5 separate regions of the Homo sapiens genome follow, and all the other regions are linked to region 5. Evidence: fine-mapped expression QTL. A gene starts in region 5. Each other region holds a variant in brackets. All regions are shown on one strand. Distances are from middle to middle.

Region 1 (5,106 bases), 73 kb before region 5:
CCAATCCACATAAAGACACCTGATTTATAACAAAGCTAATATTGCACAGTAGTGGGTATAGACACATATTTCAACTAATGGTGCTGAGATTATTGGGTTTTCATATGGAGAAGAAAGAAATTAAATTGCTACCTTATACTATATCCAAAAAAGAAAAAAAAAATGAAACAATTCCAGGTAGATTACAAACCTAAAATATGAAAGTTGAAGCTATAATGCTTATGGAAAATAGTACAGAGGATATATTTGTGAATTTGGGGTAAGAAAATGTTTCTTATGCAAGACACCAAACACATTATTTCTAAAGTAAAAGACTGATAAATGTGACTACCTTACACTTACGGAGCTCTGTTCATCAAAAGACACCAAGAAAGGGAAGAGACAAGCTAGAGTATGGGAAAAGCTACTTGCAACACATACAATCAACATCGGACTCACATTTAGAAGACATAAAGAACTCCTAGAAAATCAATGGGAACAAAGCAGAAAACCAAGTTAAAAACTGGGTAAAACTCAAACAAATATTTCAATAGAAAGGATATCCAAATGGATAGTAAACACAGAAAAAAGTTGTCAAACTCATTAGTAATTAGGAAATTAGAAATTAAAATCACAATTCTTTGACAAGCACACCAAGACAATTCAATGGAGAACAAATCGTTTTTCATGAAACGGTGCTGAGACAACTGGATAGCCACATGCAAAGAATTAAGTTGAATCTCTATCCCACAGCATACACAAAAATGATCTCAAAATGGATCAAAGACCCAAATGTAAAATGTAAAACTATAATAAACTCTTTGAAGAAAACAGGTGTAAATCTTTGTGACCTTGAATTAGGCAATGGTTTCTTAGGGGTAATACCAAAAGCACAAGCAAACAAAACACAGAAAAATTAGACTTTATCAAAATGTAAAACTTCTGTGTTTGAAAGAACACTATATCAAGAAAGTGAAGAGATGACCCAAAGAATTGGAGGAAACATTTATAAATTATGTATCTGATAAGGGTTTAGTATCCAACATATACAAAGAACTAATACAATTCAACAATAAAAGACAACCTAATTTTTTAAATGGGCAAAGATTTTAAATAGGCATCTCTCCAAAGAAGATATGGAGATTGGCAATAAACACATGAAAAGATGTTCAACATCACTGATCACTAGGGTAATGCAAATCAAAACCACAACTAGATTCACACAACCTCTTTACACCTACTGGGGTGGGTATAATAAAAAAGACAGACAATGACAAGTGTTGGTGAGGATGTGGAGAAATTGGGCTCTCAAACACTACTGATAAAATGGAAAATGGTGCAGCCCCCTTGGAAAACAGTTTGGCAGTTCCTCAAAAAGCTAGACACAGAGTTATATTATGACCTAGCAGTTCTGATCCTAGGTATGTACCCCAAAGAACTGAAATGTATTGTCACATAAAAAATTACACATGACCATTTATAGCAGCATTATTCATTAATAGCCAAAAAATGAATACGAGCCAAATGTCCATCAACAGATGAATGGATAAATAAAATACGGTATATTTATACAATGTAATATTATTCAGCCATAAAGAGAAGTACTGATAACTTCTACAATATAAACGAATCTTGAAAACATTATACTAAATGAAAGAAGCCAGAAACAAAAGGCCACATATTGTGTGATTCCATTTATATGAGATGTCCAGAACAGGCAAATCCAGAGACAAAAAAATGGATTTGTATTTTCCAGGGCGAGAGGGAAAAGGAGAATGCAGAGTGACTGTTAATGGGTTGGGTGCTTTCTTTGTGAGGTGATGCAAATGGTCTGGAATTAGTGGTGGTGGTTACATAGTTTTGTGAATATACTAAAAATTAACTATATACTTTTAAAAGGTGAGTTTTATGGTTTATGAGTTACATCTCAAAAGTTATAAGCTGGGAAATTATCAAGGAAATATAAAATAGAATTTAAGTGAACAAAAGCTATAAGCAAAAACAAGGGTGAAATCTTAGAAGAAAATACTAAATGAACAAAACAAGATGCAACTCTCTTGAGTACCCCCACACTCCCTTGAGTGTGCACTTTTTGCTTTGAAATAAAATCTCTGTACTTTCACTATTTTCTGACTCATCCTTGAATTCCTTCTCATGATGGTGTCAAGAGTCTGGACACCGGCTGGCGCTGAGGTCCCATCGGCATTTGGGGACCCCCCCCCTCCAGCCTACCAGTATCATCTTTATGGCCATCCAGCCCAGAGCATCATCAGCCACAT[C/T]AGAACCACCAGCAGTTGGTAAGTCCCATTGGGGCCTTAATTGGAGTCTTCTCGTTCTCTGGAGTTACTGCTACTTTCTTCCTTGTTCCTACAGCCTGACTCCCCTCAGCCGTAGTGCCTCTGCTTCCTCCAGCTGGAAAACGCAGTTCGCCCTGACAGTGACAAATGGAGGTGGGAAGGCTTTGACCTACACCTGAGCTCTGAGGTGCCATGGGCCTCCTGGGCAAGAGGCTAATGAGGGTGAGTAGGGTAAAATCCCATGTCCCAGTGGCTGGACAGCTGCCAAGGAGCATTATGACTTATTCCTGGGAAGTCTTCTGTTCTCCCAAGGGACCAGCTGCGCTAAGACACTGACCTTGGTTGGGAACTGTTTTCCCTTTCCCATCTCTCTTTAAACCCTGCTTTTGTGGTTTTCTCTTCTCATGCTTCTTCCTCATACTTCACACAAAAGTTTAGTGAACTCTGGACACAGCAAAATAGGTCCGCTGGAATGCCAAATCTAGGCCTATTGTTTTAAGGGGGCCCTTCAAGGTGGCTATTATTTGGCCATGCTGAATTATCTCTACTACGAAGTTTTACTTGGTAATAAATATTCAGATGGATTTTGGCAGGCTTGCTGCTTTCAAACTAGGTCCACACTCATCCTACTCAACCTTGAAAGCAAAGCCCCAGGGGCCATGGACGCCTGGGCAACACTAGGGCTCCAGGGACACCTGGACACCAAGGCAGCCAGCCAAGGGAACATGGACAACTGTCTCCCCGGCCTGACCATGGAGCTGGTGTCAAGAGCCTGGACACTGGCTGGGGCTGAGGTCCCATTGGCATCTGGGGACTCCACTGCAGTCCACCAGTATCATCTTTATGGCCACCTAGCCCAGAGCATCCACAGCCACATTAGAACCACCAGCTCATTCACCTGGCATTTTGTAAATGCTGGAACTAGTCCCTCCGAAGAGGAAACTATACTGTTCTTTTCTCTTTCAGGTCGTGCCGAGGACAAGTCAAGGCTATGGGTAACTCTCTTTTAGAAAATGGGGTGCAATGGCCAGAGTCTAGGACCGTAAAATGCAATACCATCTTGGAATTAAATCTTTTTTGTAAACATCAGAAGAAGTGGACTGAAGTAGCATATGTATTAATACAAGCCTTCACGGCTCTTTATCAGAACCTTGACCCTCGCGGGAACTGCTGCCTTTGTTAGGCTCACAGCCCTTTAGGGGAACCAAATGGGACACCAGATACCCTGCACGATCCCCCTTTTGGGAAATGTACCCCCAGACTCCTGCTAGTCCATCTCCTTACCAACCTTCACACCCTTCTCTACAGAAGGAGCAGAGCCCTGCTAGGGTTGCCCACAGTGCATTTCCTACATTCTTGACCATTCTAAGTTATGCCCACTTAGGGAGGTGGCCAGTGGGGGTGCTGGGACTATCTGGGTGTATCTTTTTCGATGTCTGATCTAGCCTACTGCAGACAGAGGTTGGGCCAATTTTCAGAGGACCTAACTAAAGTTATGGAGGGGTTCTGGGCTCTCTCACTCTCATCTGAGTTAACCTGGGGACATATTCATATTATCTTGTCCATGTGTTGTACCCCTGAGGAAAAGCAGTGTATTTGGGCACAGGCCCAGGCTTATGCTGACACCTTGTTGGCTTGGGACCCCGAACAATATACTGTAAAGGCCATGTCTGTGCCTAACAGTGGCCCTAATTGGAATTATCAACAGGGCCAGGCTTATCTAAGAAAAAAAAAAATCACATGATGACTTGTTTAGTGAAAGGAATGAAAAAAAGGTACCACTAAGCCTGTGAGCTATAATAAAATAAGGGAAATAACTCAAAGAAAAGATGAAAACCCTGCTGTGTTCCAGGGGAGCCTTGTGAAGGCCCTAAAAAATATATGCTAACATTGAACCCAATATTGATGCTGGCCAAATTTTTCTAAGGACATACTTTATTAGTCTATCAGCATCTGACATCAGGAGGAACATGAGGAGGAAAGTGCAGAAATTGGCTTTGGGATCCCAAATGCCTATTACTCACATGTTTCATGTAGCTTTTAGGTTATTCAATAATAGGGATAGGGCTGAAGAGGCTGAAAGGACTCAGCATGGCAAACAATGGGACAGACAGCAGGCCCAAATGACACCCAGGGGGATTCTTCGCCCAAGGACCAAACAGCCCTAACAGCAAACCTGTAGGAAATGGTTGCCGCTTCTAGTGTAGGAAGCTGGGACATTAGAGCAAGGGCTGGTTCATGGTATAAGATCTCAAGGATGCTTTTTTTTTTGTATCCCTCTGCACACTGACTCTCAATATTTGTTTGCTTTTGAGTGGACTAATCCTGAAACTATTATTACCCAGCAGTACACCTGCACAGTACTGCCTCAGGGCTTTAGGGATAGCCCTTACTTGTTCAGCAATGCCTCGGCATGAGAATTAAGGGAGCTAGAGGTAGAAAGGGAAGCCGTACTCCAAGATGTGGATGACATCCTTGTATATAGTTCCACTAAAGAGAACTCAGATAAGAATACCATTCAAGTCCTAAACTTCCTGGGAGAAAGAAGATTATCAGGTCTCTCCATCTAAGGCCCAGATTTCTAAAATGGAAATAAAATATCTGGGATACATCCTAAGCCCAGGAAACCGGATCTTGTCTGTCAAACAATAGGAGGCTATCTTAAAGACGAGACCTTCACAAATGAAGAAGCAACTCATAACTTTCCTAGGTATGGCACGATTTGGATCCCAGGATTTCAGCTCATTACTAAGCCACTGCATGAGGCCCTAACTGGGCCAAAGCATCAACTGCTCGGAGGGGCTTGCGCTGCAATAAGCCCCATCTTCTG
Region 2 (5,106 bases), 120 kb before region 5:
TCCTTAGAGGCAGAACTGAGAATACAGGACGGTTAGGGGTGAACTGAGACAGCAGATGGACTCAGTACAGCAGGTTGAGGACATGGAAGCTGGCAGTGGTGTCATCAGTGGGGGGCAGGGCAGGAAGGGGTCAGAGTTCAGGACAGATTCCTGAGTCTGTGGATTGACTTGGAGGTGGCAGGGCATGCAGGACTGGATGTTGAAGATGAAAAGGAGTTTCTGGAAGATGACAGTGGGAGGCAACACTGTGTGTAGACTGTGCAAATTTACACTGGCATACCACATGGAATGAGAGAGTCTGGCAGCCATTCTAAGGCAGTTATTGGGATGTAAATTTGATGACGGAAGTTTATGGTAAAAGAAGGGACAGGAGGCAGGTAGGAGGGGAGATAACCTTATGAATTTGTGCAGGGCTTAGCATCAGTAAAAGGGCTGACATGGAATAGGGGAAGGTGGAATGCAGAGTTCCCAAAGTGGGGGCACTGGCAAATCTCAGGGGCAAGTCAGTGGTATGTTCGGTATCATGGCTGAGTGTAGGAGCATTTTAGGGAATAGAAGTTAAATCCTAGACGACAAGCGAGTGGGGTAACAACACTTTACCTGTCATGGTAACTACTTCATTGAATAGGAAAACAGAAAAAGAAGAAACCTTATAGAGGGTGATGGTAAAGCAACCCCAACTGATATGGAAGGCAGTGTTGGCAATCACTGAAGGTCAGGATTTTGAAAGCAAACAATTAACAATGTAAAATTTGCAAGTGTGGGGGTTGGACATAGGTTACTATGTGTTTAATGTGGTCTCCAACAAAATTAGCAGAGCCAAAATGAGAAGGAAGTATTACTCTGTTTAACAAGATTGAAATTAAGGGGACAGTATACAGTTTAAACCACTTTGGGATTTAGGAATGTCAGAGTTGGTAGGGTGGGTATTGTTGCCCCTTGATCCACAGTATGGAATAATGGCAAAGAGGAAAACTATATAGAAAGAACTTGTCATTAGGGAATTTGGTGGCTTCCTTAAAGCTCCTTGAGGGAAACACTTGATGAATGCTTAGAGTCAGGAGAATAAACGGTCCCATATAGAGATAGGTTTATGAAGCGGAGTCTGAAGGATGAGCTTCATCAGCAATCCTCAGAATGTCAGTTCTACTAGCTAAGGATGCAGGTAAGTATGTTGGACACCAAGAGAACAGGAAGGAAGTGTTTTGAACACTGGAGGTGGGTCATGAGGAAGCTTATACATATTCACATTGTGAATCAATTTCAAGGACAGATGAACAAAGACTGGGCGTTACCAATAGAGCAGGGTTTTGTTTTGTTTTTCCCCTAAGGCAAAAGGCAGAAATGAGTGGGTACACCATGATTAAGTTGCATTCTGTAGAGATAGGATCATTTAAGTCAAGTCAGCAACAAAAATTAGAGACATTGAAGATGATGGGGTAGAAAAGGGGTATCAAATAGGTTAGAAAGATGGCTTGAAAGGAAATGAGGGAAATTTCAGTGAGTTTGAGGAATGGCAGACTGGGTATGTGACAAATGAGTGGGTAAATAAGGAAATCTCAGACTGAGAATCCTGGCAGATCTTTCAATGGGTTAGACTGCAGGAATATTGATTTTAAAGCCAGACTGAAGCAAATTCTAGTGATAAAGGAAGGGGAAAGGGTGGCTGAATCAAATGTTCTACCAATACTGCTTTTTTTAGTATTTGAGTTAAAATTCAGATTAAATGCTTGGCTTAGAAGAATGCAAAGCTTCACTGAGCCTAATAATATGGATCCCAGTGGGTGAGTGGAGGTGAGTTAAAGTAAAAAACTCTGAGGCAAATCTTACTTAACTGAAGTTGTGTTTTTAGTACAGAATGCCAAGTTAATATGGTTAATACTGAACAAAAAATAATGGAAGGGCAACTACAGTAGCTTAAGATGGCACTTTAAGGAAGTGTAGGCAGAAAGTCAAGAAATTAAAATAATTATGAATCATTATATGGCAGGCAATATTTCCAATGAAAATCAGAGAAAATAAACTCACATACATGTACTGTTACAGCTGATCTTAGTATGAATATTTTCTATTAAAGACTGTTTTAAAATAAGTTATTAATATTTGTTGAAATGGTTCCAGATAACAAGAAATATGATGCAATAAAACCTGATAAATAAAAGCAATATAAAGATTAGAATGGTTTTGAATAGGTAGTGGAATAAAAAGTTAAGTTGGTAGTTGCATTAAAAAGGTCAAACATGGGGAATAATTGGTAGAATGTTGTGTATATAATATATATTGTTACGGGTGCAATAAATATTCAGGGGAAACAGAGCTGCTGAAAGAGAATGAATGCTTAGAAGGAATGTTGCCTTAAAGGCTTTTCTAAAACTTTTTAGGTAAAGGACAAATTCTGGGAGGACGAAAGATAATAAGTAGGACTAGTTACATAGAGACTTAGGATGTCCATAGTCTTTCAAGAAATTGCCCAACCTTTGCGAGAAGGTGTTATGGTAATATATTGATGTTGGGTTAAAGCAAATTTTTTCAGATAGGGTAGATTTTTATACATTTATAAAGTAAAGGGGAGTAGGAAAGATTAAAGATAGATCAAAGAAAGGAATAATTGATGGAACAACTTTCTGGAAGAGATTAGAGGGTATGTGTCTTTTGAACTCTGGAAGACTTGATTTTAGAGAGGATAAAGGAAGAAAGTGGATAATTCTAGAATTAAACACCAAAAGGTTCTATGTGTCTGGCACCATGTGAAGCAACTTACCTAT[T/TATTTCATTTC]ATTTCATTTCATTTCATTTCATTTCATTTCATTTCATCCTATAACAGTCCTAAGAGATCAAATAATTTGTCCACGATTACACAGTCAGTATGTAGCAGGGCCAGCATTCAAATCCTCATCTGTCTATCAAACCCATATTCCCTTCTATTATGCTATACTGTTTTCAAGTTGAAGGAAATCAAACCAAGAATTTCTGTTTTTTCACTGCGATTATAAGGAAAAATATTATTTTTCTGAAATGAGACATATTGATGTTTAAGACCTTGAGGTGACAGGTAAAATTTGGAATATCTGTGATGGGAAAATGCAAAAAGGAAGGAATGGGTGAAAGATACCTATTACCATCTATGCCCTGGTATTTCACTTCTTCCATTGCACAGCATAGACTTTAGATTGGCCATGGATTAAAAATTTGAGAATTCTGACAAAAAACTAAATAGAAAGGAGTTTGTTTTTTAAGTAGGTATATGATGGGTCAAATATAAACTTACTACTAACAAAACTTTAAACAATTCCCTAAATGCCAAACTTTTATAAACAAAAATCAAACAAACCATCAAGCAAAAGAGTCCATAGCCAGCAGACCAAATGTTGAAATCTCTGGGCTAATTTGTAAGATCTATGTTTTAAAACTCCTTAGTGAAGAGGGGCAAGAAAACCTCTCCTCTTTTTCCTCTCTTGGTGGAAATGTTTTGTTGTTGTTGTTGGTTTTTTCCTATACTATATGTAATTTCTATATTGTTGTTTTGTGTATTTTGGTATTATAAAATTATACTTCTTAGATTCCGTTAAGAATACTTTCTGGGGTGTGAGCCACCTGAGTTATTAGTTAGCAAAATGAACCTGGGGAAGTGGGAAGAGCTAGTATTCTCAATTGGCAAGGGATTGATTCTTCAATGGGTTCAGCATTTCACTTCCCTCTGAAATTAAGTGGCAAAGTAATAGCATCCCTTAAAAAACAGGACATTGGTGAGAGGTAGAATAGCAGGAGGAATTTTGAAACATGGAGGGATGGCTACTGGAAAAGAACTGATGAAGTGCAGAGTCTCTCCAGACAATGGTAGAAACCACAGGACTACATTAAGATTGGGCCCAAATACTAGTTTAGAAAAAGGTAAATAAAACTAGCTTTACTTAAGAGTACAGCCAGCTTAATTACTGGCTAGTGGACATATTTCAGACAAATCTAACTGGAGAGAAAAACAGACCAGGAGAGAAAGCGAAGTTACAAGGAAATGGAACTAGAGAAACCTCACAAAGGGATAAAGGAGGTAATTAAAGGTTAAAGCCAGATAGCCTCGAGCTCAAAGGAGAAATATTGGAGGCCAGATAGGAAAGTGCCTTCCTACTCAGGGGGTTATGGATCCAGGGTGGCTAAAGAATAGAAGTAGAGTTCCACCCAGGGCCAGAGGGAACAATCTGGGATTCAGACACAGCAGTGGTGCCAACGTGAATCTACCTCGTGCTAGAGTCTGAGTAGCCTAGTCTATCACCCAACACAGATAAGACTGGACAGGGGCTCCCAGGAACCAACATCTAAGAAGGGAGTTTGGAGAGGGGCTAAAAGAAAGCAGGTTAAGCCCCAAATGTAACTGAATGATGACCAGGGATAACTATTTACTAGTGCTTTTATGATTTATTGTAACTCTGTAACTTTCCCAGTATTTGTTAATTTTTTAACTTCTGTTTCTCCTGTACTTACGAGCAGTAAAAGTTGTTCAAAACATAAATGTGATGTGTGTGCTTATTTCTGTGAAAACTGGGTAACAGTTACGAATATTGTGCACTGAACATGAGAAGAGAAGAAATCAAGGAGGAAAATGATGATGGGGGGAATCAAGTAGAATAAATACTTGACATTCACCTTCCCAAGTCTCCAAATAAGTAAATACTACTATTGGCACTAGTTGGCTGTCTTTTAGGGGCTATTTCTCCACCCTGCAAAGACTGCATATGGGTCAAGGAGGGAATTAAAAGCCCTTCTTAATGTGGACACACATGGTTGGCTAAGCTACTCACTAGGCTGAGACATGCTCTCAGACACCAGCCTTATGCTACAGGACCTTCAAAAATGATGTATTTTAAAATGCCAACAATCTACTACATAACCAAGTTCTATCTAACTAGATAGAAACTTTGAGGAGAAGAGGGTCAAGATTCTTCACAGGAGACCAGGTATATGAACTCTCACAAGTGGTCACATTATTCCAACAGAAAGCTTGAGTTCCTTTTTGTGCTACTGCTATACACACTCAGTTTCTCTTTTAAGATTAAGTGTTCAGCAAATTTTACTCAGAGATTTAGTTTTAAAATTAATATTTCTGCAGCAGTAAACCATTT
Region 3 (5,106 bases), 65 kb before region 5:
CGCACATGTTCTCACTCATAAGTGGGAGTTGAACAATGAGAACCCATGGACACAAGGAGAGGAACATCACACACCGGGGCCTGTCGCGGGTGGGAAGCCAGGGGAGGGATAGCGTTAGGAGAAATACCTAATGTAGATGACAGGTTGATGGGTGCAGCAAACCACCATGGCACATGTATACCTATGCAACAAAACTGCACGTTCTACACATTCTGCACATGTACCCCAGAACTTAAAGTATAATAAAAAAAGGAAGGAAGGAAGGAGGGAAGGAAGGAAGGAAGCAAAGAAGGAAGGAAGGAAGCAAAGAAGGAAGGAAGGAAGGAAGGAGGGAAGGCTCTCAAAGTGAGAAACTAAAGCATCTGGCCAACAGCCAGGGAGAAACTGAGGCTTGTCAACAACTATATAAGTAAAATTACGTGGATCCTCCAGGCCCAGATGACTGCAGGCTAGGCCAACGACTTGATTATAAACTCATACGAGGGAGGGACCTTGAATCAAACTGGACAGATTCTCTCAGATCCCTGACCATAGCAACTAGGGAATAGTAAGTATTACTTATAAGCTGTGAATTTTTGGTCCAATATACCACATAGCAAGAGATAACACATACAGTTACACTTACTTCTAACCGATTTCTTTCCTGTTGTCTATTTGAAGGCTTTACCTCAATCAATTTTTTCCTTATCAATTTTCAATCAACTTTTCCTCACTCCATTTTCTTCGACATTTTGAAAGCTTTACATTCAATTTACATTCTTTATATAATTAAATATTATATTAGCTATATCTATAATATTACAATAAAGTTTTATATTATTACCATATTTTCCTCCCATACAAGATGACAACACACATACACAGCATACTTTTACTTCCATCTAATACCACCTTCCTTTTTTTACTTTTTTTGAGACAAAGTCTCACTCTGTTGCCCAGGTTGGAGTATAGTGGCACAGTCTCAGGTCACTGCAACCTCTGCCTCCTGGGTTCAAGCAATTCTCCTGCTCAGCCTCCTGAATAGCTGGGATTACAGGCACACACCATCACACCCAGCTAATTTTTGTATTTTTAGTAGAGACGGGGGTTTCACCATATTGGCCAGGCTGGTCTCGAACTCCTGACCTCAAGTGATCCTCCTGCCTCGGCCTCCCAAAGTGCTGGGACTACAGGCATGAGCCACCACACCCGGCCAACCACTTTCCTTTTTTTTTAAAGCCTACAGCATCCGGTATTACCAGATTGTCTCGCATCCAAGTACTAACCAGGCCCAACCTTGCTTAGCTTCCAAGATCAGATGAGACCTGGCTTGTTTAAGGTGGTATGGCCATAAACTAATACCACCTTCTACACCATTATTTCTCATGTTGTCATCCTCTGGAATTTTAGAGCTTCTAATTAAAAAAAAATTATTTGTAAACATCAATTCAGAATTATCAACTTTTCTACCCCAAATAAGAACCATCCAGCTAAGACATTCCCAAACCCCTGACCTGCAAAAATTATATGGAAAAATAAATATTTACTATCCCTTTAATCTGGTGTTACACATGACAGTATGAAAATCATACGTGAATTACTACAAAATTAATGTGCTCCTACCTCAGAGATAATCACTATACTAACTTTCAATACCACAGGTTAGTTGTGCCTATGTTAAGTCTAAAATAAACATAAATGGAACTATATAAAATGTATTCATTTGTGTATGACTTCTTGGTGAGATGTATTTATGTGATTGTATTTAACAGTAATTGTTCATTTCCATTATTGTATACTATCTGACTATATGAATATACCACAATTTATTTTTTGATTCTGGCACTGATAGACATTTGGACTGCTTCCATTTTGTGGCAATTTGGGCATGGTGGCTCATGCCTGTAATCCCAGCACTTTGGGAGGCCGAGGCAGGTGGATCACCTGAGGTCAGAAGTTCAAGACCAGCCTGGCGAACATGGTCACACTCCGTCTCTACTAAAAATACAAAAAATTAGCAGGGTGTGGTGGTGCGTGCCTGCAATCTCAGCTACTGGGGAGGCTGAGGCAGGAGAATCAATTGAACCCGGGAGGCAGAGGTTGCAGTGAGCCAAGATGGCACCATTACACTCTGGCCTGGGCAACAGGAGCAAAACTCAGTCT[C/CA]AAAAAAAAAAAAAAAAAAAAAAAAATTTGCGGCAATTATGAATAACAGTACTATAGGCATCTTGTACAGTTGATCCTCGAACAACATGGGGTTAACAGTGCCAACCCCCATGTAGCTGCAAATTCACATGTAACTTTTGACTCCCCCAAAATATCACTAATAACCTACTATTAATCATCTTGTTGATAACAAAAATAGTTCATTAACACGTTTTATGTTATATGTAATATATATTGTATTCTTACAATAAAGTAAGCTAGAGAAAAGAAAATATTAAGAAAATCATAAGGAAGAGAAGATATAACTATTCATTAAGTGAAAGTGGATCATCATAAAGGTCTTCATCCTCATCATCTTACATTGAGTAGGCTGGGGTGGAAGAGGAGGTCTTGATGTCTCAAGGGTGGCAGAGGTGGAAGAAAATCCATGTGTAAGTGGACCCATGCAGTTCAAACCCATGTTGTTCAAGGATCAACTGTATGTCTTTTAACACACAAATGTAGGCATTTCTGTTTGGTTATTTATAAGAAGCCAATTGGGATTGTAATTAGGGGTTTGTGGAATCCATAGGTCAATTTAAGAAGATGTATCTTTACAATATTGAATATTCCATAAATGTTATATGCCTCATTTACTTAGGTCATACTTTAATATTGTGTAATTTTCTGTGTAGAGATATACACAAATTTTAGTAGATACATTCCCAAGGATTTGATTTCAATATAATTATAAATTGTACCATTTTTACAAAATTTTATCTTTTTGATGGGTTGCTGGAATAAGAAATAAAATGACTTCGGATATTGACCAGCAACACTGGTAAATTTACATATGAGCTCTAATAGATAATGTACAGTTTATTTTGCATTTCCTATATATATAGCCATATTATCTCCAAATATAGTGTTACGTCCTCCTTTCAAATTTTTAGGTATTTTATTTTCTTCACTTATTGCACAAAGTAAGCCTTCTAGCAAAATACTATTTAAAAAATAAAAATAGCAGGCATTTTTGTCTGTCTCATTCACAATCTCTAGGGGAAAGCTTTTAATAGTCCACCAATAAGTATAAAGTTTAGTGGAGTTTTTTTGTACTGTTGTCAGAATAATCATGTTCCCTTCCAGTCCTGGTGGCAGAGATTTCAATCATGAATTGCCATTAAATTTTATCAACCGCTTTTTTCTGCACCCATTAAGGCATTAAGACTCTTCTGTATTTTTAAAATGAGGTATATTATGCTATGTTTTACTGTTAGATCAACCTTATACTACTAGAATAAACCCATACTGGGAAATATTTGGTCATTATTTCTTCATATATCTTTTTTGCTCCATTCTATCACCTTTGCTTCCAGATTCCAATTACATATGTGTTAGGCCACTTGATCTTATCCCACAGTTCTTCGAGGCTCTTTATTTTCTTTAATCTGTTTTCTCTCTGTTCTTCAAACTAGCTACTTTCTCCTGCTCTATCTTCAAATTCACTAACTCTCTTTGACTCTCTCATCAGCCATCTCTAATCTGCTGTTAAGTCCATTCAGCAAATTATCTGATTCAGTTATTGCACTTGCTGGGGCAGAATGGCTCCCCAAAGATGTCTATGTCTTCATTCCTAGAACTGATGAATATGTTACGTTACAACATGGCAAAGGAACTGTGCTGATATAATTAAGATTGTCACCTAAATTACCCAGGTAGGTGCAATCTAATCACATGAGCACTTTAAAGCAGATGTGCTGAAAGAGGAGGCAGAAGAAATGTGGCAGAAAGGCAAATCAGAGAGATTCAAAGTGCAGCTCAACACACTATTGCTGGCTCTGACACGTATGAATCAACATGCAAGGGACTCAAAGAGAGGCCTTTAGTTGCTCATTGAAAGCATGAGAAGGAATACAGGCAACCTCTAGAGGCACAGACTAACCTCCAGCTGAAAGCCAGCAAGGAAACAGAGACCTACAACCTACAGTCTCAAGGAAATGAATTTGGCCAACGACTTAAATGAGATTGGAAGTGGATTCTTCCTCAAAGCCTCCAGTAAGCAACAGCACTCCACCAACATCTTCACTTTAGCCCCATGAGGCCTGTGTCAGACTTCTAATCTACAGATCTGAGATAATAAATGGATCTTGTTGTAAGCCATTACATTTAATGGTAATTTGTTATGGCAACAATAAAAAAAACTAACAGATTTTGGTACCTGTAAGTGAAGTGTTACTGCGACAAATACCTCAAATTGTAGAACTGACTGGAATTAGGCACTGGGTGGAAGCTTGGAAGAATTTTGAGGAGCATGATGGAGGAAGCCTAGTTTTGAAGAGACTTATAAGAAATCTGATCTTAAATGATCCACCCACCTCAGCTTCCCAAAGTGCTGGGATGCCTATAGTTCCAGCTACTCAAGAGGCTGAGGCATATGAATGGCTTGAACCCAGGAAGCGGAGGTTGTAGTGAGCTGAGACTGTGCCACTGTACTCCAGCCTGGGCAGCAGAGCAAGACTTTAAAATAAATAAAAAAAAGAAAGAGAGAGAGAGAGAGAGAAAGAAAGAGAAAGAGAAAGAAAAAGAAAGAGAGAGAGAAAGAAAAGAAAGAAAGAGAAAAGAAAGAGAAAGAAGGAAGGAAGAAGGAAGGAAGGAAGGAGAAAGAAAGATCAATCGATCTGGTTCTTAAGGACACTGCTGGTCAGGGCTTATGAACTGCCTACAGAAATTTGGACTTAAAAGATGCTGTAGTGAGGGCTCAGAAGGAAGTAAAAAACACATTAATGTAAACTTGAGTAAGGTAGATCCTTGTTATTATGTATTGGCAGAGAGCTTAGTGAATTTGTGCCCTGTAGTTATTTGTGAAGCAGAACTTGTAAACGATGAAGTTGGATATTTACTTGAGGAAAATTCCAAAAATGAAGATGTGACCCAGTTTTATCTTGCTGTTTACAGTAAAATGTGAAATGACAAATTTCACCTACG
Region 4 (5,106 bases), 160 kb before region 5:
TTCACACAAGTGGTGTTAAGTAATAAGAAATGGAGGTGGGGGTACATTTTTGGAAAGTGAAGTCTTTATAAAAAGTAAAGACAGTATTTTCTGAAATGTTTGAAGGAGGGGATTTAGCAAGCAGGGATGAAGAAAAGGCATTTAGGATCTTGTCTATGGTCTGGAAAAAGCTTATAGGTACAAAAAATATTAGATATTGGGAGAGTTAAAAAGTTATTTGGGGGATAGGCAAGGAGAGGAAAGAACAGGCTCAGATGTGAAGACCATATACGACAGATTGGGTAATAAGACTTTCATCTGCTCAGTCTTGACTTTAAATTCCATCCATTCATCCATCCACACATGTAGTGACTGTCAATACATGTTGACATTACACGTAAAGGTATAAGCTTATGTGCCAGACACTTGGATAAAAAGATGACTGAGACATGATCTCTGTCTCTAGGAGCTGTCTAGGAGTTAAATAAGTGTGTGGGCTGTGTGTGTGTGTGATCTATCTATGACTTTACAACTCAATGCCATAGATCCTTTAAGTTTTAAGAGAGTGCCATGTGAGGGTGCGGGATTAACAAATAGCCTGGGAAAACTGTAAAAAATGTGAAACGATATAATAGTTTAACTGGCTCTCAAAAGATGCAAAAGAGCTTTGGCAAGCAGAGGAAGATGTACAAACAGGCAAAAGGAAAGAGGCCAGAAAGTCCACCGGGCAGCTGGAAACAGTAAGAGGCATGCTAATGCCTAGGTGCTGAGAAGATAATTTGTTTAGGAATAAATTGTAAAATACCTTGTATTTCAAATGATTTTCCAACAGGCTCTGGTGAGCTGAGGCAGTCAAGAGATTGAAAGGTTAGAGATAAGCTAGATAAGGTGCCTAATTTAAGCCACTGGTGGGGACTATGAAGAATGGGTCTGAATTCAGAGAGCAGATGGATTCAACAGAATATGCTGAAAACAGACGATGGCAGTGGGTTTTCCCATATAGGAAAGAATGAACCTATCAAGCCTGCAGAATCAATTTCAATGCCATTAGGGGTTGAGAAAAGAACGACTGTGGTTTAATTAGGATAGGATTTTCTTCAGAGAGAAGGGGAAAGAAGTGAAAGTTAACACAAGGCCAGAACAGGTCAGGTGAGGCATTTTTTTTAAACCATGAAAGAGATACAGAATATGGTAGGGGAAAAGGTCATGATCAAGTTAGAATGAAGAGTCAGGAGAGACATTAATTATAGCAACCCAGTGTGGTTCCAATTAAGCAGAGAGGCTACAGCAAATGAGGAGGACAAAGAGACAACATCAGGTATGAAGGCAGATCACAGACTGGGCACAGGGGCTGAGTTTTATGTGGAGGTAAAGACAGAAGACACTTACATATAAGGACCTGATACAGAGAAAGAGATTAAGGAAGTAAATAGGAATGGTGTTAGTAGAGATAATGTTCCTGAAACCTTAGTGGGAATTTTTTTACTTAAATGGTTTGATTGATACAATGAGAGGTTACAGGGATCTAAGGAAGTCTAGGCAGTAATCTGTCGAAGCTGCTGGAGAGGATGACGAAATGGGGCGAGGAGGCAAGATGCGGGGGCCTTTCCATGGCAAGAAAATACTGAATGCACTGCCATAATGTAAATATGAGAGTTACACAGACAAAGCAAGGCAAATACCAAAGAGAATCAGGAAAGAATGCCCTGAAGATCTGCATTAAAACTGTTCTCTGAAATTAAGCTTGTCTTGTGAGGATTCACTGAAAATGAGAGTCAACCACTAAGGAGATTTGTATGAAAAGAACCCAGCGAATTAGAGAAAAGATAGATGCTGGCAGCTAAGACAGGAGAGGGACATGTGAGTTGGGCCAGGGTACAGAAAATGCAGTGTGGCAAAGGGCAGAGTGGGAAAGGTGGGAGGGAGCTGCCAGGTCTCAACCACCTGGGGGAGACCATGACAAAGTAAGAGACACTTATGAGGTATTTCCAGAAAGCTTTGTTAGAATAATAATTAAAGAAAAGGGTATGTCACTAGGGCAAAAGATTAGAAAGAAGGCAAAAGAGATGGATCTGTACAGGCTAACTGCAGCAGTCTATGCAGGTCTGGACTGAACTGAGAAGCAATGGGTGCAGCATAGTGTGTAGGACATCGAGGAAAGCTGGGCAGTGAGTGCCAAAATAAGCAATACACACCTACCTGGAAAATCGTGTTGAGTCTGTGGGAATGCTGTACAAATGGTGGGAGGGAGTTTTTCTCTAGGACAAATTCAGAAAGGGAAGGAGGAATGGTACTGGAAAGCAACATTAGAGTTGTCCTCAGATGAAAAGGAGTTGGTCACTAAGGAATGACACACATCAACAGGAAGGTAAGACAGCATTGCTGGGCCAAAAGTCATAAGAGAGTATGAAATAAGAGACTGGAAGCAAAGGAAAGAAAATATTACATAAGGAAGGGCCTACTGGCAGAGCAGGTGTGGAATAAAGATTTAGAATGGGGTATCCTGTCTAGGTCTAAATGGTCGGCTGCATGGGAAATACACAGAAAGGGTTAAGGAGCAAGGAATTCAGTAGGAGGCAGCAGCAGACTAGCTCTTAAAGCTTTTGAGGGAATGGCTAATTAAAGGACTTGCTTGATAGGAAAGTTATAAACTGATGAATGCTGATAAAAAGCTATAGATGGGCCGGGTGCAGTGGCTCACGCCTGTAATCCCAGCACTTTGGGAGGCTGAGGCAGGTGGATCACCTGAGGTTGGGAGTTCAAGACTAGCCTGGCCAACATGGTGAAACACTGTGTCTTC[T/TA]AAAAAAAAAAAAAAAAAAAAAAAAATACAAAATTAGCCGGGCGTGGTGGCCCATGCTTGTAATCCCAGCTACTTGGGAGGCTGAGGTAGGAGAATCACTTGAACCCAGGAGGCAGAGGTTGTGGTAAGCCGAGTTGGTGAGCCTTGTTAACTCTCCTTGTTAATACACAACTCTCCTTGTTAATATACAACTCTGACAATTTAACATGAGCCAAGCCCCATTGCACTCCAGCCTGGGCAACAAGAGCAAAACTCCATCTAAAAAAAAAAAACAAAAAACAACAAAAAAGCTATAGATGGCAACTTTAGAAATATTAGGCTTGATTTATTAAGAGAGTGTGAACATGTAGTTTGTCCAGAGAATGGATTATTGCTACTAGATGGGGAATGGGTGATTATGAAGAGTGAAGTAAAAAAGTCTATATCTATTTCTGTAGAGATGGTAAGGCCGGGTGCAGTGGCTCACACTTGTAATTCCAGCATTTTGGGAGGCTGAGGCTGGCAGATCACTTGAGGTCAGGAGTTTGAGACCAGCCTGGCCAAGATGGTGAAACCCCGTCTCTACTAAAAATTTTTGTAAAAATACAAAAATTAGCTGGGCGTAGTGGCACATGCCTGTAATCCTGGAGGTTTCAGTGAGCCAAAATCACGCCACTGCACTCTAACCTGGGTGACAGAGTGAGTTTCCGTCTCAAAAAAAGAAAAAAGAGAGAGATGGCAAGTGAAAGGATGACTGACAGTTAAGATATCGTAGACTATTGCACAGTGTTCCACTGAAGTTGCCTAGAAGTTACTCTGCTATGTGAGGATTGGCTAAAAGTGACAGACATTTCCTAGGGAAACATGAATGAAAATATCACAGGGGAAGAGAAAGAGAAGATGGAGGCTGGAAGCTAAAAGATGAAAAGATGTAGGATTTAGGCTGGAGTGTGGAATATAAAGTGTGGGTAGGGGCTGGGCACGGTGGCTCATGCCTGTAATCCCAGCACTTCAGGGGACTGAGACAGGTGGATCATTTGAGGTCAGGAGTTTGATACCAGCCTCGCCAACATGGTGAAACCCCATCTCTACTAAAAATGCAAAAAGTAGCTGGGCGTGGTGGCAGGTGCCTGTGATCCCAGCTACTTGGGAGGCTGAGGCAGTAGAATCACTTGAGCCCGGGAGGTGGAGGATGCAGTGAGCCGAGATCAGGCCACACTGCACTCCAGCCTGGGTGACAAGAGTGAAATAATTCTGTCTAAAAAAAAAAAAAAAAAAATATATATATATATATATATATATATATATATATGTGTGTGTGTGTGTGTGTATATATATATATATATGTGTGTGTGTGTGTATATATATATATACACATATACATATATATGTATGGGTAGGGAAGGGCATTAAAGAGGGCCAGAATGAGGAACACCAGAAGATGGCAGAGCTGCATATGCAGTAGAGAGATGTGAGTTAAGCTGGGTTACAACCAAAGAAGGAAAGAGAATACAAAGAGTAAGTAGATAAATAAGAACTGGTGTCATGAGGAAGTGCCATCTGGGAATCTTTGCTTGAATGATGTTTGAAGCAACAAGTGTGACCAATAGAGTGAAAGGTCAAGGAGTTTAAATGGAATGGATTCTTGCCATAGGCAGTGGCAGGAACCCTATGAAGGTCTGGAATGAACTGAAAGTGCAAGTGTTTTCAGAGTAGTGTGGAGGTGACGAGGAAGAAAAGACTAAATTCATGAGAATGATACACAAGATGATAGCTGAAAAAACAAGTGACTAACAGTTGTTCTACTAGGGTCAACTGGGGAAAATAGTGGAAGAGCCTGCAGAAGAGACGGAGTCATTTGAAGATTGGCAGGTATTGACTGGAGGGATACGGCCCCATAAGTGTAAGATTAAATAAGGAGAGACTGGAAACTGTGTAAAGGGAGAACTATACAAAGAGTAGGTAAGCGTAGGTGGAGTGGCATGGACAGGTAAAATGAGGAAAGTGTTTCCCAGAATGGGAAATCTTGTAAACCCTTAAAAAATGTGGGTTTATTCAGTCAAATGTTGGCTCTTAATTGCAGACTTTGAAAAGCAGTAGATACAATGGAAGAAGAACAAGTGCTTGAAAAGTAATGCGAAGCTTTTGTGAGAAGTTTAATGAGAAGGATTAGAAGGAGATGGATTAAGATGAGCCCTAATAGGGCAGCACTTAAAGACACCAGGATAGATCTTTGAGTAGTTTGTAGAATGGATGACTAATATTGGAAGAGGAGTGGCTGGAGATCATGTTGGAAACCCATCTCAAGGGTGAAACTTCTTTGTTTCCAGGTACAGATGGTAGATGAA
Region 5 (5,106 bases):
TAAACATCTCTAATCTCAAAATCCAAAATCTGAAATGCTCCAAAATCAGAAATTTTTTGAGTGCCAATATAACACTCAGTGGAGACACTCATCAGAGCATTCTGGATTTCAGATACTCAGATTAGCAATAGTCAGTGAGTATGTATTCTGCAAATATTCCAAAATCCAAAAAAATCTGAAATCCAAAACACTTCTGGTTCCGAGCATTGCAAAGAAGGTATACTCAACCTGTATATGTCATAGTCCTCGTACTCAAGTTTTACATATTATTTTGTTAACCAAACGTTGTATATGTTAAAATTAAGTGAATTTAAAATAAATAAATATACTTTCCAGAAAGTATTTCACTGAATCTTCAGTATTTCTATTCCAGGACACACTTATCTGAGGAAAATAAAAATAATATACCTGGTTCAGTAAGTAAAGAATCTTTGTAAGAATATGCAAACATCTTCTTGGATTGATTGGAGTTTCATTGAATATACGAGCCTATGAAAAAACATAAAAAACATTGCTACTTTTCTACCTTTTCTATCACAGATTATAGCAAATCAACTTTAATACAGACTATTTTTAATCACGGTATCCAAAGAACATTGTCTATAGTTCTCAATTTACTAAGGTATCTGATAAATTATTACACGTGGCCTTGATTTTCCATCCTATACTTTCTCATTCCCTTAGGTTGACTACTTCAACTTTATGGGCTATACCAGTTAAATAAGGATCACAATACTTATCTATATCATACTAATACAATGAGATTAATACAGATAACTGATTTCAATAACCTTGCACTAAACACCTGTTCTTACATTTAAAATTCCCAACCTGTGACAGTCTTCATGTCTTTGCATTTCTATAAGCTCCAAATTCTCCTGTGACAAGTAACCCCTCTTTCTTTTCCCTCAAATCTATATTCCCTAAACTCTGTTACGTTTCTTGTTTTGCATGTCGTGATCACAGCAGCCCAGGGATTCTCTGCCCACCACTCTAAAACAGAATAGAAAAGAAAGGGCACAAGATACTTCCCAGTCATACCTCCTGTAAAACAGCACTCTTCTCCAGATGCTGGAAAGGATTGGAGCCACTACCTATTTATAAAACAAAACAAAAAAATGTCCTGAACAGCTGTTCTACACAAACTTATATACTTTCCAGAGAAGGGTACTGAATGCTTGGGAAGTGAACACTTGGATGGCACAGTGATAATCATGGCTAATACGCATACGAACTGAATGAAATCATTTTGATCCCGGCTCTGTCACTGCCATACTCGAAGAGCTGAGACTTCTCTTTCGCAGCAACCCTCTCCAAAATGAGTGTCTTCTTTCCCTGCCCTCTTTTTCCATGAATGTTAAAAATGTGTCATTTCCACAACAACGAAGATTAATGAGATTGTAGTAGGGTGCTTTTGATTTCCTTAGGTAAGCAGTATTTTATGTGTTTCTAACACTTAAGGAGAGGCAGAAACGAAGTTTCCCAGAGAATCATGCAGGCGTAAAGGTGCAAGAGGCCATGGAGGTTGACTAACCCAACCCCCTCTCACACTGTGGGAGATGCTACCAAACACTGAGAATTTTTTTCTTTTTGAGGATGCTTGGCATCTTCCCCATTTGCTCTGGACCAAAGACGGGCATCAAGACGCAGGTCACTTCTGGACACCTGAGCATTCAACGAGCTGTGTCCCACGGGACAGTCTTGCCCCCGGGGACCTGGACAGAGCCGGTGACCCCAGGAAAACGATAAGGTACCAGGCACCTGAACGTTCCTCCACACACACCCTGTGCCGTCGACCCCAGCCCCGGGAACAGGGTGCTCCCACTAGGGGTCCGACCCTACCAGCACCCCTGGACGCGGAGACGCGCGCACGCCCTCGGCCCCCGCCGGAGGCCCGCGCGCAGGGGAGGAGGCGGCTCGGAGGGGCTGCGCCGCAAGAGGGGCGGGAACGGGGCGCGCGCGGGCGCCGGGGCGGGAGCGCGCGGCCCGAAGGGAGGCTCCGGCGCCCGGGGGAGGGGCTACGGGCAGGCCCCGGGCAGCCGCGAGGGGAGGGGAGGGGCCGGCTCCAGCTCCGGCCCCCTGGCACGGCGGCGCCCACGCCCCCAGCCCCGCCGGCCTGAAAGCAGGTGGCGGCGGGCGGGGGAAGGGGCGTCCCGCGGCTGAGGGTGGGCCTCGGAAGCCCCGCGCGTACCAGACTCCTCGTCCTTCTTGTCGAATTTTTTAATCATCTTGGACGACTTCCCAGCGCCCAGACCCACCGCAACCGTCCCAGGCGCCGCAGCCGGCGAGCGGAAGAGGCTGCAGGAAGGCCGGCCCCGCGCTCTCACGCCGGTTGGGCCGCCGCGCCTTCACTCGGGGCCAAGGCCCGCCCTCCCCGGCCGCCCTCGGCCCCCGGGACGCAGCCACGCCCCCTTCTCCTCTTGCGGCCCGCCGGAGACTTCGGCTCGACCCTCCCGGCTTGCGACCCGGGAGCCCACGCCCGCAGCAGCAGGAATGTGGTTTTATTTGGGTGGCGACTTCTGCGGACCCCTCAGTCTCAAGAGAGCGAGGCGGGAGGACTGAGGGGTCTGTGTTCACCCGATGACCGTGGCCTTTTTGATAATCCACTGCGGGGCCCTCCCGTTGCGGAAGGCGCTCTCCCCGGGCGCGGTTCTGGTGGGCATGTCTTCCAAGAGCGATGCGAGTGTCAGTGGTTCCCGAATCACTTTGGAAATTGGCCTTTCACTCGCTGACTTCTTGGAAGCTACGACAAAGCACAGGCACCCTGGTGAATGTGGCTTTTCAGAAGTACTCGAAGGATACTTAATGTGAGATGTAAAGGAGACGCACTTGGAGGGACCAGAGGCTGGTCTTTAGAGGGTAGATTTTGGACCGTGTAATACCATTCCCAACCTATTTTATAATTTTTGGATTCCTTCATTTCATCAAAACCCAGTGGAAAATTCATTGCCAGTTTAGAGTCTTCCTTGTTCAAGCCTATTTCTTTCAATGATTCCATCTGAAACCATATTGACACTTAAGAAACTCACTAAATTAACGTGCATTCATTCCTAACTCATGTTCCTCTTTTTCTCAGAGTGTATGCTGGCTTTCTGTTCTCTTGTCTAAGAGTGTAGCTAAGAAACTTTGTCTGCCTTTGGCTTCACTGGCATAACTTGTTTAGAAATGTAAATTGGGTCTATACTCAACAGGATCGTGCCCCTGCAAAATTAGAGAAATTCTAACCTAGATTACATTCTACATCCTAGAGAAATTCTTTCCCTGAAATACAGATTTAAGATGAACTGTTGATATCCTACATATGGTATCATTTAAGATTTAACTCCGACTTGACTAAATGTACTATTAACTACTATGTTTGCTTTATATGGCTTGTAAAGGTCAAGTCATACTTTGTAGGTGGAGTTTTCTTTGAAGGAAATAGAAGTCTGCACTCATTTATTCTGGGGGTGAAAATAAACAGGCTTTGGGGAAGGAAACATCCTCTTCCTCTTCCTTGGCCCAAGGGTATTGGGAACCTAGGCAGAGACAGTGTAGATAATAGGCCCAGAGGTTCTCAAGGTGGGTAATGCCCCGGAGACCTGCTGAGAAGTAGAAGGACCTGAGTTCAGATTTGGGGCTGACCCTAAGACTAGCCCCTTGTAAAGCAAGATCAATCATTCTCTGCTGTTCTTCAGCTTTTCTGTATATCTATGAAGTTTTGTTTAATACCACAGGTTGTTTTTAGCTGTGCAGTATTTACGGAGTTAAGAGCATCAGTAGGTGGAAATGGGATGGGATGTGGTGGCAGATAGGTATAGCAGGAGCAGAGAAGCCTGAAGAAGCCAGTTAAGGGATGGTATAATATGACCCCAGGCCTTCGGTATCAGGACTATTTGGACTGAGGATGGCTGGCAGACGGGTTGAGCAATCACTGCAATGGCTTTGTGGGACAGGCAAGGATACCTTAGGGAGTCTCAGGAATTGTTTGAGGAGAGAAACCCAGTAGGAGAAATGGACCTTATCTTAAAACCATGAGCTGGTGAAGTCTGAGGACCCACCAATTATATATATCTAATACACAAATGTGTACTCAGTGCCCTGAAATTCTTCATTGGGTCCAAACTGCCTACTGGATAAAACCCAAACCTTTATTTAAATAATATTTAAGGCATTGTGGTATTTTCGATTTCTTGTTATTGTTGTTTGTTTGTTTTTCAGACAGGGTCTCACTCTGTTACCCAGGCTGGAGTGCAATGGCATAATCACAGCTAACTGCAACCTTGAACTCCTAGGTTCAAGCAATCCTCCTTCCTCAAGCCCCCCAAGTAGCTCAGACTACAGGTGCATGCCGCCACACCCTGTTAAATTTTTTTAAATTATTTTTTGTAGAGACAGGATCTCACTATGTTGCCCAGGCTAGTGTCAAGCCCCTGGCCTCCAGCAATCCTCCTGCCCCAGCCTCCCAAACTGCTAGGATTACGGACACGCCCAGCCTGTCAAGGCCTTTTATGATCTGTTTCATCTCTTTCACATATTGAAAGTGATATTGTTGGTGCTTGGTAAGTGTCAGACACTTAGTAGGAACCCTTGAAATACTGTTAAATAAATGATAATATGTGAGGAGGATTCTCATTGTACCCTCTGCCATACAACCTTATTCCAAGCCCCTTCTACCCCATTCCCTACCCCAATCCCAGAGACTTTTGTACCTCTAAGACACACAGACTTATCCTTTGGCCCTTTTAGAGCAGTTTTTTCTTCAAAGTATAATATGCATACCACTGGGTGGTTCTAGGTGGTACATAGATAAACATTTTAAAATTTCATTATTATAAATTTGATATAAGTGTTTCAGAAAAGCATATAATTTGTACATCAAAACCATGATATCAATGATATAGTATTAATTAGGACAAGATTTTTTAAAAATCCTTTTAAAAAATGCTAAGTAAATTAACAGCAAATAATACATCAATATGGCAAAAACTATTAAAGTGCTGGGTGATATAGCTTAGTAAACACTGCTAGAGCTTTCTTGAAATTTGAGGATTTAAACAGGGTCCAGAGCTTTGCACCTTTTGAGCCTCTATTTGTTGTTAACTTCCATGCTATAGGGAAAAATAG

Direction of the effects. Alleles are on the strand shown, and positions count from the first base shown. SD is a standard deviation of normalised expression in the study named. Not every link is listed here.
For the expression in subcutaneous fat of the gene that starts at base 2,308 in region 5, allele T in region 2 goes with a higher level than allele TATTTCATTTC (large effect, 1.7 SD a copy in TwinsUK).
In carriers of allele CA in region 3, the expression in macrophages of the gene that starts at base 2,308 in region 5 tends to be lower than with C alone (large effect, 1.4 SD a copy in Alasoo 2018).

The links.
Region 1: its variant is fine-mapped to the expression of COPG2 in whole blood (INTERVAL, PIP 0.98).
Region 2: its variant is fine-mapped to the expression of COPG2 in subcutaneous fat (TwinsUK, PIP 0.95).
Region 3: its variant is fine-mapped to the expression of COPG2 in macrophages (Alasoo 2018, PIP 0.95).
Region 4: its variant is fine-mapped to the expression of COPG2 in monocytes (CEDAR, PIP 0.95). The same link has a PIP of 0.9 or more in CD4 T cells.

The regions. Positions count from the first base shown.
Region 1 is chr7:130,593,612-130,598,717 of GRCh38, forward strand. All of the region lies in intron 9 of COPG2 (coat protein complex I subunit gamma 2), which reads right to left. LOC124901746 (a long non-coding RNA gene) reads left to right here. Exons shown (of 2, transcript XR_007060524.1): 1 at 1-2,498; 2 at 3,243-3,365. Among named protein-coding and RNA genes, the nearest start is that of COPG2IT1, 53 kb to the left of the region's middle. The variant C/T (reference allele first, on the strand shown) is at 2,259.
Region 2 is chr7:130,542,405-130,547,510 of GRCh38, forward strand. The region is part of intron 20 of COPG2 (coat protein complex I subunit gamma 2); the gene reads right to left. COPG2IT1 (COPG2 imprinted transcript 1) reads left to right here and starts at 1,049. Exons shown (of 1, transcript NR_024086.2): 1 at 1,049-4,496. The variant T/TATTTCATTTC (reference allele first, on the strand shown) is at 2,766.
Region 3 is chr7:130,601,579-130,606,684 of GRCh38, forward strand. All of the region lies in intron 9 of COPG2 (coat protein complex I subunit gamma 2), which reads right to left. It also overlaps the pseudogene RNA5SP246. Among named protein-coding and RNA genes, the nearest start is that of COPG2IT1, 61 kb to the left of the region's middle. RefSeq lists a silencer at 420-620. The variant C/CA (reference allele first, on the strand shown) is at 2,143.
Region 4 is chr7:130,509,273-130,514,378 of GRCh38, forward strand. All of the region lies in intron 20 of COPG2 (coat protein complex I subunit gamma 2), which reads right to left. Among named protein-coding and RNA genes, the nearest start is that of MIR335, 16 kb to the left of the region's middle. The variant T/TA (reference allele first, on the strand shown) is at 2,780.
Region 5 is chr7:130,666,441-130,671,546 of GRCh38, forward strand. COPG2 (coat protein complex I subunit gamma 2) reads right to left here and starts at 2,308. Exons shown (of 24, transcript NM_012133.6): 1 at 2,192-2,308; 2 at 1,042-1,094; 3 at 409-489. The coding sequence starts at 2,228. It overlaps TSGA13 (testis specific 13), which reads right to left. Exons shown (of 8, transcript NM_052933.4): 8 at 2,203-2,743. The coding sequence ends at 2,574. RefSeq lists an enhancer at 1,511-1,620 and silencers at 1,891-2,480, 2,571-2,680.